2 separate regions of the Homo sapiens genome follow, and region 1 is linked to region 2. Evidence: fine-mapped expression QTL. A gene starts in region 2. The other region holds a variant in brackets. All regions are shown on one strand. Distances are from middle to middle.

What was found. PIP is the estimated chance that this variant, and not a neighbour inherited with it, causes the effect.
Region 1: its variant is fine-mapped to the expression of MTMR7 in skeletal muscle (GTEx, PIP above 0.99).

The regions. Positions count from the first base shown.
Region 1 is chr8:17,209,691-17,215,075 of GRCh38, reverse strand. ZDHHC2 (zDHHC palmitoyltransferase 2) reads right to left here. Exons shown (of 13, transcript NM_016353.5): 9 at 5,018-5,144; 10 at 4,596-4,688. Among named protein-coding and RNA genes, the nearest start is that of CNOT7, 34 kb to the left of the region's middle. The variant G/C (reference allele first, on the strand shown) is at 2,698.
Region 2 is chr8:17,410,835-17,416,219 of GRCh38, reverse strand. It overlaps MTMR7 (myotubularin related protein 7), which reads left to right and starts at 2,869. Exons shown (of 14, transcript NM_004686.5): 1 at 2,869-2,951. The coding sequence starts at 2,928.

The DNA of each region.
Region 1 (5,385 bases), 200 kb after region 2:
ACTGACTCGCGGTGAGAAAAGTGTTCTATCTTCAGTCTCTTTTCCTTCTTCTGCTTACCATAAGATGATAATCTCTAACACTGGAAAATCTCCAGAGAATAGTCTTCAGCCCCAGGCTTTAGCAGGTACTTAGAACTTAATAACAGTATTTTATTATCAATTTTATGTATGTATTTATTTTTGAGGAAGAATCTCACTCTATTGCCCAGGCTGGAGTGCAGAGGTGCAGTCATGGCCTCAACCTCCTTCGCTCAAATCAATCCTCCTCCTTCAGCCTCCCGAGTAGCTGGGACCACACCACCACCCTCAGCTAATTATTTTGTTTTATTTTTTGTAGAGTGGACTCTCTATGTTGCCCAGCCTGATCACAAATGCCTGGTCTCAAGTGATCCTCCTGCCTTAGCCTCCCAAAGTGCTAGGATTACATGCATAGGCCACCACACCGGGCCTATTTTTAAAGTTATATTCTATTTATAGAAAGTTACGCGAGTTTCTCATTTATGAGAGTGGTATAAACTTTGGTTTAAAAAAAGCATAAGTGCCAATTTAAATACAGAAAAATATTAATTTTGTAAGTGATATGTGGATATGGAAGAAAATATGAATGTGATGGTAGGAAGACAAAGTTGAGGAAAAAATGGCCTACAGCTTCTAAAGTGGCCTAACTGGTCTTGAACACAATTTTCTCTATCTTCTTCTGTAAAACTGAAACAACAACTTTGAGCAAACTATTTTGCAGGAATATAAAAAACATCTGAAATTATCAGGTCTTACAAACCCAATGTTCAGTCTGGGGAATGAGCAGTCTTCTAAGAAGAATTTTCTTTAAAATTTAGGTGGAAATGCCATACATCAACATATTGGATGGCATGAAAAAGTATACATAAAAATATTTCACTTAGGAAACATTATTGGCATAGAAACTATTAGTGATGTTTTATAATGTTCTGAAATAGTAATTGTAACAGTATTCAAAAGAAAAAAACGACTTAAAACTCTTTCAAGAATAATTTCACATATTTGAGTTCAATTATATATAGTAACTATTATGTTTTTAAAGGATATATGCGTATGCTTTTTCTTCTTAATTACCTCATATCTAAAATTTTAGAATATTTCAATTTTGTGCAGCTTTAACAACTACCTACTAAAATTTTGGAGGTAAATCTTAAAAAACAGAAAACAGCATATCTCCACACAGGTTTAAATATATTATATAAAAAATCTTACTTTAATTCTTATTCTTCTTCAAGAAAGGGACCATATAACGGGTACAGAAGACTAACCAGATCCTGGGATCCTGGTTTAGGGACTCTGAAGATTCATTACTGCTAACAGGACTCTAGCAAAGGGCAAGAATCCATTCACTGAACAATGTTTATTGAGCACCTGTCACTTTAATAAACAAAGTCTTTGTTCTTATGGAAATTTCACTGTTATGGAGGAAGAGAAATAAACAATATATACATATATGAATGAAATAAGTCAGGTGATAATAAGAGCTATAACAATCAAAAAAATCAGGCTGGGCATAGTGGCTCATGCCTGTAATCCCAGCACTTTGGGAAGCTGAGGCAGGTGGATCACTTGAGGTCAGGAAGTTCGAGACCAGCCTGGCCAATATGGTGATACCCCATCTCTCCTAAAAATACAAAAATTAGCCGGGCATTGTGGTGTACATGTAATTCCAGCTACTGGGGAGGCTGAGGCAATAGAATTGCTTTAACCTGGGAGACAGAGGTTGCAGTGAGCCGAGACTGCGTCACTGCACTCCAGACGGGGTGATAGAATGAGACTGTCTCAAAAAAGAAAAAAAAAGAAAAAAAAAATCAGTGTAACAGGAAGAGGCGGAGAAAGTTACTATTTTACAAAGGGTTATCAAAGATTCCCTCTATTCTGAAGTTACGCCCGAACAGAATATAAATAAAGAGAAGACACAGCTCACTGAGATCTGGAGGAAGAATGGTAAGGAAAGGGAATTAGCAAGGACAAGGCACTACATAAGGAACATGCTTGGTCCATGTGAGGAACAGCAAGATCTGTGTCTGAGGATTGTAAGTGAAAGGAAAGTAAAAAAGAATGACATCCAGAAGGCCAAGGTGAGAGGACTGCTTGAGCCCAGGAGTGTGAGGCTGCAGTGAGCTATGATCACAAAACTGCACTCCGGCCTGGGCAACGGGCTGTTAATGGAGACATTTTATTATAACAGAGACATTACTAACTTGCTTTAATAGAGACAGGAAGACCCTGTCTCCATTAAAAAAAGAAAAAAAAAAGAATGACTGTCTGGGGTCAGATCAGTCTTGTTAAGTGATGGAACAGACATTCATTAGCTTTTATTCCGAGTAAGATGGGAAACTAATAGAGCTTTCAGCAGAAGAGTGACACAATCTGACTTATATTTTGAAGGGAAAATAGATTGGAGTGGGGCAAAAATGTTACATCAGTTAGAAAACTACTGAAGTAATCCATGGGAGCAGGGATGAGGGCTAGGACCAGGAAAGCTGCCTTGGAGGTGGTTAGAAAGTATTCAGATTATAGATATACTTTAAAGAGACATCTGATAGGATTTGCAAATGGAGTAAATACAAAGTAATTGAAAGAGAGGAATCCAGGATGACCCCACAGTTTCTAGCATGAACACGTGGGAGAATGGAGGTCACTAATACTGATAATGGAAGCATGGAGGAGATTCTG[G/C]TTTAGGGTGGTGATGAGGGTACACATGGCTGGGAATCAAATTCAAAGTTCTGCTCTGAACCTGTTTAGTTGGAGATGATTTTTAGGTGTCCAAGTGGGTGTGTCAAGTAGACAGCAAGATATTCAACTCTGGAGTAAAGAAGAGAACAGAACTTGCCACGAAAATTTTATCTGGGCTCAACATGGGAGATAGTAGAATTCCGCAGAAGAAAGAGACTTTAGCTGTCTAAATCTGACCTCAACATTCAAAGGAAAGGAAACAGAGGCCTCAAAAGATTATTTAACTTCTTCAAGATCACCCAGTTGGGTAACAGTGTCAGAACTAAGATTTCTCCCAAATCTCATGGTGCCCTTAGTGGAAGGAGAAATATTATCTCTAAAACCAAAATGATTTCTTAAATTATTAAAAAAAACACAAAGGGCAAAAAAGTATTATAAACTACTACTGAATTTTGTAAAAGCTTGAAACGTATTCTGAATAATTTATTAAAACTAGATTTTTCTGCATTGAGGTATATGAAAAACCATAAACATTTAGCTCTGTGGGATTTTCAAGCCCAAATGCACAAGGCATGATCTAGTAAAAAACTCTGATGCCCATGAATGTCCCTGTGAAATATATACACTGGGCCCATTCACTAACTGGTAGGGTCTGGCCTGTACATAGCTCACTCTAGGGATGGGGTGACAAATACCTTTCATCTCTTTTGACAATTTAAAAGGATTTTAAATATAAATTCCTTTTACATTTAATTCCCAATTTAAAAGGGCAGAGGCAGGAGGATCGCTTGATCCTGGGCGGTCATGGCTGCAGTGAGCCATGATCACTCCACTGCACTCCAGCCTGGGTGACAAGAGAGACCCTGTCTCAAAACTAAAATGGAAACAAACAAACAAACAAACAACAACAACAAAAAGAACTTTAGAATGGCTACCAGGAACACTGCCTTGAGGTTTATGGGGTCACTCCAGGCTCCCTAGGAAAAAGTCCTGTGATCAGTAAGAAATGTTCAATATGGAGTGTTGGTGTGGATACTGTGTATGTGGCACTGCAGCAACTAAGAAAAGCTCTAACGTTTAATGAAGAATGATATTATGGTTATGCTTTTGCTACTGGCTTTCATTGAAAAATCAGAGGAATGGTTATACTCAAATCTGTCACAAAGGTATAAAAACTGGTGTTTCAAACCACTGAAAATTCATACATAGCATTTTAAAAGTTTAAGTAACTTTTCCTTTTGCCAGTTGGTAGCACGTTCAGAATGAAATGTCAGGTCTTTCTCTGGCCAGCCTCAAATTCTTGATAGTCTGGAATCAAAACAAACTTAAAGCTGGAGCAAAAGTCTCCAGACAATGAATTTCTAAGACTCTGGCTTCTCTCTCCACAGAAATGGCTCAGATAATCCTTAGAGGTCTTCCAAGGGCACTAAGTCCATAATATACATTAAAATGGAGTTGTCAAGAAGGTGTCTGGGGGTCCATTTGATCTCCAAAAGCCTCAAGTTTCTTTACTCTAACAGTTATCACAGAAAGGAAAGATATGGTGGGTCAGGGGCGATTTTACCCTGTCTGCCTACCTGAGCAGTGGGTAGCTAATTTTGACTTACATTTTTTTTTCTTTTAAGCACTACATTTAAAAAATATTTCAGTCAACCAAAATGTATAGACAATTAACACCTTTTTACTCACACTTAGATTAATAACACCATTTTACAAGTATAATTGAAGCTTCCAATGTATCCTCAATCATACTTTCTTTTTTCCCTCATTTCAAGTGGAAACCATTGCAGTAAATTTTCTTATGGTCTTCATTTTTTTTCAAAGGAACATATAACCAAAAGACACAATATGGTAAAATATCTTATTTGAAAGTAAAATGAAAAAAAATATGAGATTACTTTTTAGCTGTGGAATTCAGCCCTGCAGGAGTAGATGCTTGTTCAGGATCCTGGTTAACAAGGCAAGTTGGAAAGGAGCAGCCATCACCTAGACTAGAATTAAAATAAAAATTTAGAACTGAACCATACAAAAGACAACGGAGTGAAACCCTGCCAAAATGCTGATGTCCGAGAGCAGAACATGCTATACTCTAGGCAAAAAAAATGTGTATTAGACATTGAGCTCAACATAGTGTTCAGGAAGATGATGAATTAACTGACTTCCACACTGATATTATGGTGAATCATAGAATAATATTTTTTAAAAATAAGAGTTCCTACACAGAATTACAAGCCTATGGAACTAGAGGCTTTTCCTGAAACTATCTTTTGCTGTATTATTTTCATTAGTTTAAAGCCTGAAAATTTTAACAAAGAAGTACCTTGAAAAAATGGGTAGCAACCAGTACTTCTTCTCATCACCAAAAACTTGTCGCATGTTTTTACTGAAACCCAAGCTGAATCCATTCTTATCTGTTCCATGTCGAAATACTGGACTTCTGAATGCCTCTAAAAAAAGATGGTAAAGGAATCACATGAGTAAAGAACATATTTACTAGCAATCCTGAATATTTATCAATAATTGAAGTAAATGAAGAAACTCTGAAAATCAATGGCTAGCTGACTGTGAGGGCTTATGTGCCTGTCAACAGCCCTGAAATATAGGGTGTCCATTCTGTTTTAAAATATCATAAGATATACCTATTTTAATTTTAAAATATGCCTTTTTATTATAATAGTACATGTGCAT
Region 2 (5,385 bases):
TTTCACTTATAATGTCCTCAAGGTTCATCCATATTGTCACAAATGACAGGGTTTCATTCTTTGTGGCTGGATAGTATTACACTATGTATCTCTACAAAATGTTCTTTATCTATTCATCCATTGATGGACAGTTAGGTTGATTTCATATTTGGCCATTGTGAATAGTGCTGCAATAAACATGGGAGTGCAGATATTTCTTCAACATAGTGATTTCATTTCCTTTGGATAAATACCCACTGGTGAGATTGCTGGATCGTACGGTAGCTCTATTTTTCATTTTTTGAGGAAGCTCTATACTGTTTTCTATAATGGCTGTACTAATTTACAGTCCTGCCAACAGTGCATAAGGGTTCCCATTTCTTTGCCTCCTTGCCAGCATTAGTTATTGTTAGTCTTTTTGATCATAGTCAGTCTAATTGGGGTGAGGTGATAGCTCACTGTGGTTTTGATTTGCATTTTCCTAATCATTAGTGATACTGAGTATTTTTTCATAGACCTGTTAGTCATTTGTAGGTCTCATATTGAGAAATCTCTGTTCAGTTTTTTTTGCCCATTTTTAAATCAGACTATTTGGTTTTTCTGCTGTTGAGTTGTTTGAATTCCTTTTATATTCTGGATATTAACCCCTTGGCAAATGCGTAGTTTGCAAATATTTTCTCCCCTTGTGTAGGCTGTCTCTTTACTCTGTCGTTTCCTTTATTGTATAGAAGCTTTTAAATTTAATGTAATCCCATTTGTCTCTTTCTGCCTTTGCTGCCTATGCTTTTGAGTTCTTATCCCAAAAATCCTCGCCAAGACCAATGTCTTGAAGAGTTTCCCCTATGTTTTATTCCAGCAGTTTCACAGTTTTGGGAGGAGGCTATTTTAAAGCCTTGACTGTTCACAGAGTAAACACTCTTTTCATGCTGCCCTAGAATTTCCCTTTTGGCTGCTAGAAAAAGGGCAGAGCTGACTGCAATCCACTGAGTGCTTTTCCTCCACATCTTTGTTATAGGGCAAGGCCAACAGAGACATTGATACATTGCATCATTGAGTTCATAAAAATCCTGAAGAGAGGCCGCTTTTACTTTTTGCCAGGCAGAACCCCAAATGCAGCTCTGACCCTATCATACTGAGTGACTCCAGATGAGGCTGAGTTTATTCAGAGATGTGTTCCCTCCTCCACTTATAATATGGTCCATTTGGGTTTAATTACGCTGAATAGGATCGTATTGAGTTTGTAATAATTAGCAATACCATCCCTAAGGAAACAGGGTTTGGTCTCACTGCCAAATCAGAAGTTTGCCTTGCCTCAAGAGAAATATAAGTATTCTGGAAAAAGTCTTGCAAGTGTTTTTGATAAGAATTCAAATCTCCTCAGGCCATTGAATATCACAGGATTTTGGGAAAATGCCCAGTTAAAATCAAGGTTGTATTTTAAAATTCTGTTAGCAAAAGTATTTGCAACTGAATTATCTATGTGATAAAAGTTGCATAAGAAGAATTCTCTAGAAGACGTTTGGTAACTTGCAATCAAGTAGTTTAGGTCTTGCTTATGGTTAGGTGTCCCTAGAGATCTTTAAAGGCATTACCAACTCCCTCTTTAAAAAAATCACAAACACAAAGGTAGAGACAGTGCATTATTTTGACTCTCAAATTCCCTTTCCACTTCAACATAGTATAGGCTAGGCTCAATTCAGCGTTAAAGTTCAGTGGCTTTATGTGACAACAACAACGAAAGTGTTCTTTTCACTTCCAAAAGAATCAGCTGTGGCTTTCCAGAGTAGTTCTTCTAATAATGTAAACTAATGGTAAACTTGTTCTAATTGCCTCCCAAAGCAGTAGGAGGATGAAATGGTAGAAGACCTGTGAAAGAGGGATCTGGAATTTTAAAAATAAATTCAACACCGTATTAATTATTTGCTGGAAGGCTGCAATGTGTCCAGGTATTAGATAAAAAAACGGTAAGCAGAGTCTCTACGGAAAAAAAAAAAAAATCACAATCCAGCCTGAAAGATGAGTAAGAGCGAGGAAAAAATTGAACAGAACTATGTAGAATTCTATAAAATTTCACTTATGGTGGAGCATTGTACTCTTAGGGCTGCAAGAAAAAAAAAATGGAGGGCGTTCTTCCTCTCTTTGGCTTTTCCCAAGAGGCCTAACGCTAACAATGGCACCAACTACTGTTAATACCATCAATAGGGAAATGGTACCGCATAATGGATGCTTTGTATCTCTATCTCTCAGTTCAGTTGGAGCTAAATAAAGAGGGCAAATGAGCACCCAACACTGTGCCAGGGGAAAAGTGTCGCCTGCAACAGTGAAGTCGCAGGTGGATGTGAGATGCCTGACTTAGGAGCGCGCTTACCAAGGCGCTAACACTGCTGCTATTATTTCCACCCGCACCCCGAGCGCTATGCCGGCCGCGCCTGGGATGAAACACACACATTGAGCCTACAAGACCGTCCTGGGTCTAGAGTGTCTGTGGCAGCCTTCTTTTCTGCCCCACCCTGAAATCCTAGCTATCCCAGGACGCCCTAGAAGGAAGCCCAGGGACGGTGTGGAGCAGCCTGTACTCCCCATCTCTCTTCCAGGAGGCCACACCCAAAACAAGGCCCTCTTTGTGTCTCGGAGAACAGTGGCCGTATAGTGCTCCGCCGGCTGCCCCTGTTAAGAGAGAGCGAGCAGCCCTCGCCCCGGCAACCCCAGGCAGAGGCGCGTCGCGGCGGCGGCGCAGGTGGGCGCAGGCGCGGAGGTGGGCTCTCTAGGGCCGCGCGGGAGCCCCGGGTCCGCACGCCGCGCGCGGAACACCTGGGGGCGGAGCCAAGACCGCGTCCCGCCCACTCCCGGGCGCGAAGCCCCCTCCCCGCGCCCCTCCCATCGCGCCGCAGAGGCGCGCAGGTGCGTGAGGCCGCGCCCGCCCGGGACCCTGCAGACGTGGGCCAGCCATGGAGCACATCCGTACGCCCAAGGTTGGTGACACCAGCGCGGGCGGAGGAGGGACGGGAGGAGATGGGGGAGGAGGAGGAGGGATGCTGAGCGCGCGGGAGGCCGACTGCTTTGAGGGGCACCGGCGGAGCCTGGACCGCGGGCGAGGGAGGAGCAGGCATTGCCTGAGCATCCCGGGGTGCCTGCGAGCCCGGTCGTTCTCTTGCTGCCTCCCAGGCCTAGCCTTAGCTGCTGCTGGGTCTGACCTCTTGGTTTTGGGGGAGCGCAGTGGACACAAGGGTGAACGGGAGGGAACCTCAGTTGTCTGCTAGTAACTGGGTGTAGATCAACCCTTCTTTCTCCTGGCACGAGGCTTTCTCTTTTAGCTGTTGGCCGCTCAGAGTAGTTGAAAGGGAAATAAGCCTTTCGGTGACAGGTGCAAGGAAAACGAGCTAAATGCAGAGGGACTCCTGCGCTTGGAAGCTTGTTAAATCTAGGGTGTCAGGCCCACCCGGCTCGGCCTTCCCAGTCAGCATCCTCATCCTGAGCGTAGCAGCTGCAAGGGGCCTTACACAGAACGGATAATCAATATTCATTGTAGGTTGAATGATGGTGTGTTCTTGCCTTTTCCAGTCCGTTTTGTTCGTTAGAGAAAAGGATGCAGCTTACGGATTCGTCACGCACTGTTGTGTTTTAACAACACCAGCTTTTGCTAATTAACAAAAGCAAATGGTCCCTGATCACTCCAGTAAATTAACATTGGAAACGTTGATCGCTGTACCAAATCTTCCTCCTCAGTTGTACTGATAATCTAATTTAGAATGAAAATGATGATCGACGTTACTGCATGATAAAAACCCTAAACGAGTGAAAGAATATGCTTAAAAACCCTATTGGCTGTCTGTTGTTACTACCACCACAGCTCCTTGCGTTTTTGCAGGATGAACTTCCATTCAAAATGTAGGCCCCTGACAGGTCAAAGCTAGGTCAGAGTGGCCATAGCTCAGGTGGTTCCAGGGATCCCACACATTTAAGAGGGGTGGGGGCAATTGCTTTATGGCCAGCAAGAATTGATTCCTAAATTTTGGAATAGTTCCTGAGTACCTTTTTGTAAAAGCAGATTAAAATGATCTCATGTCATTGGAAGAAGAAATCTTTTAGTTTGCTGGAGAATGTCAGTTCCGACAGTAAATTTAAATTGTATTGATTTTGCACTAGGGAATTAAGTTGTCGCTTCACAATCATGAAATTGTAAACTTAGAAGACAATGCTACAAACCACAGAATAGGTGGCTCAAAGCTTTCAGAGTTTAAGTGGTACTAAATAATTTATTCCAGAAGGGTGAATTTAACTCATGGACTCTGCCCTTGCCAAGGGCATTCTTCCTCCTTCCATGATGAAGGGAGCCGTTTGTAAAAGTGATAGCTGTTGTGGATATTGATAGCAAGAATGATACAGTGACATGGCAGTGGATGCCACTTTGTTAGAGAATATGAATTTGGGGGAGTCAAGGCCTTTTCTGTTCTATATACAAAGCCACCTGGTACAAAGTCACGTGTGAACCTGAGTTGCAAGCAGTGTTCTTACTCTTAAAATTGGTGTTTATGGATACCCTCTAAGCAGTGCAGTACTTGAAGTCAGAAATCCTTATTTATCTGGAAATGGAAACAAATTGGGGGAAAATGGAAAATTGTCTGAAGTGTTACTGAATTGGGTGAGTCATTAACATTTGGGATAAAGCTGGTGAAAAAAATAAGAAATTACAGAGGTTGGATGGATCGGATTCATTTATTCATTTATTTTATTCTACAAGCATTTAGAACCTTTCATGTGCCAGGCTCTGTGTTAAGTGCTGGAAGCGTCCAGGAACTCACAATCTCTAAGGGGAGGCAGTTGTAAATATGTCAGTGTATGATAGAGACATGTGCAAGGTGCAGTGGGTAGAGAGGGAGACTGAAGAGAGGATCAGCTCTGCCCTCAAGGTCAAGGGAAGCCTTCTTAGAAGAGCCGTCTTAACATGGAAGGACTTAAGGAGGACTAGGAGCATTTTCAACAGTGGTCATGTACTTGTATAAATATATATTGTAATAAATAATTACAACCCTAAAGAAACTGAAAACAATAACAATGGTCAAAGATAAATGATTCCTTGAGGTTAAATAACATCCTCCTTTTGTTTTACATTTTTAAGGGCAAAATTAATTTTCACAGTCTAAATGAAAAAGAGAACAACATTACTTACAGAGCTTGCAGAGTTAAATATATAATTGTTACTGGTCATATTCATCTTTATTATTTGCTTCCATTATACTTGGTGAAACTATAGGTAAATTTCCTTCGATTTCATGGTTTCATGTCTTGGGTTTGCAAGGAGTGTATACAAAGTTTGTTTTTCTGGCCCACTGTGGGTTTATAGCAATATTTACTGTGTGGGTAGTAGAGTTTTAAGAGGAAAAGAATTGTATGCATGTATAATGT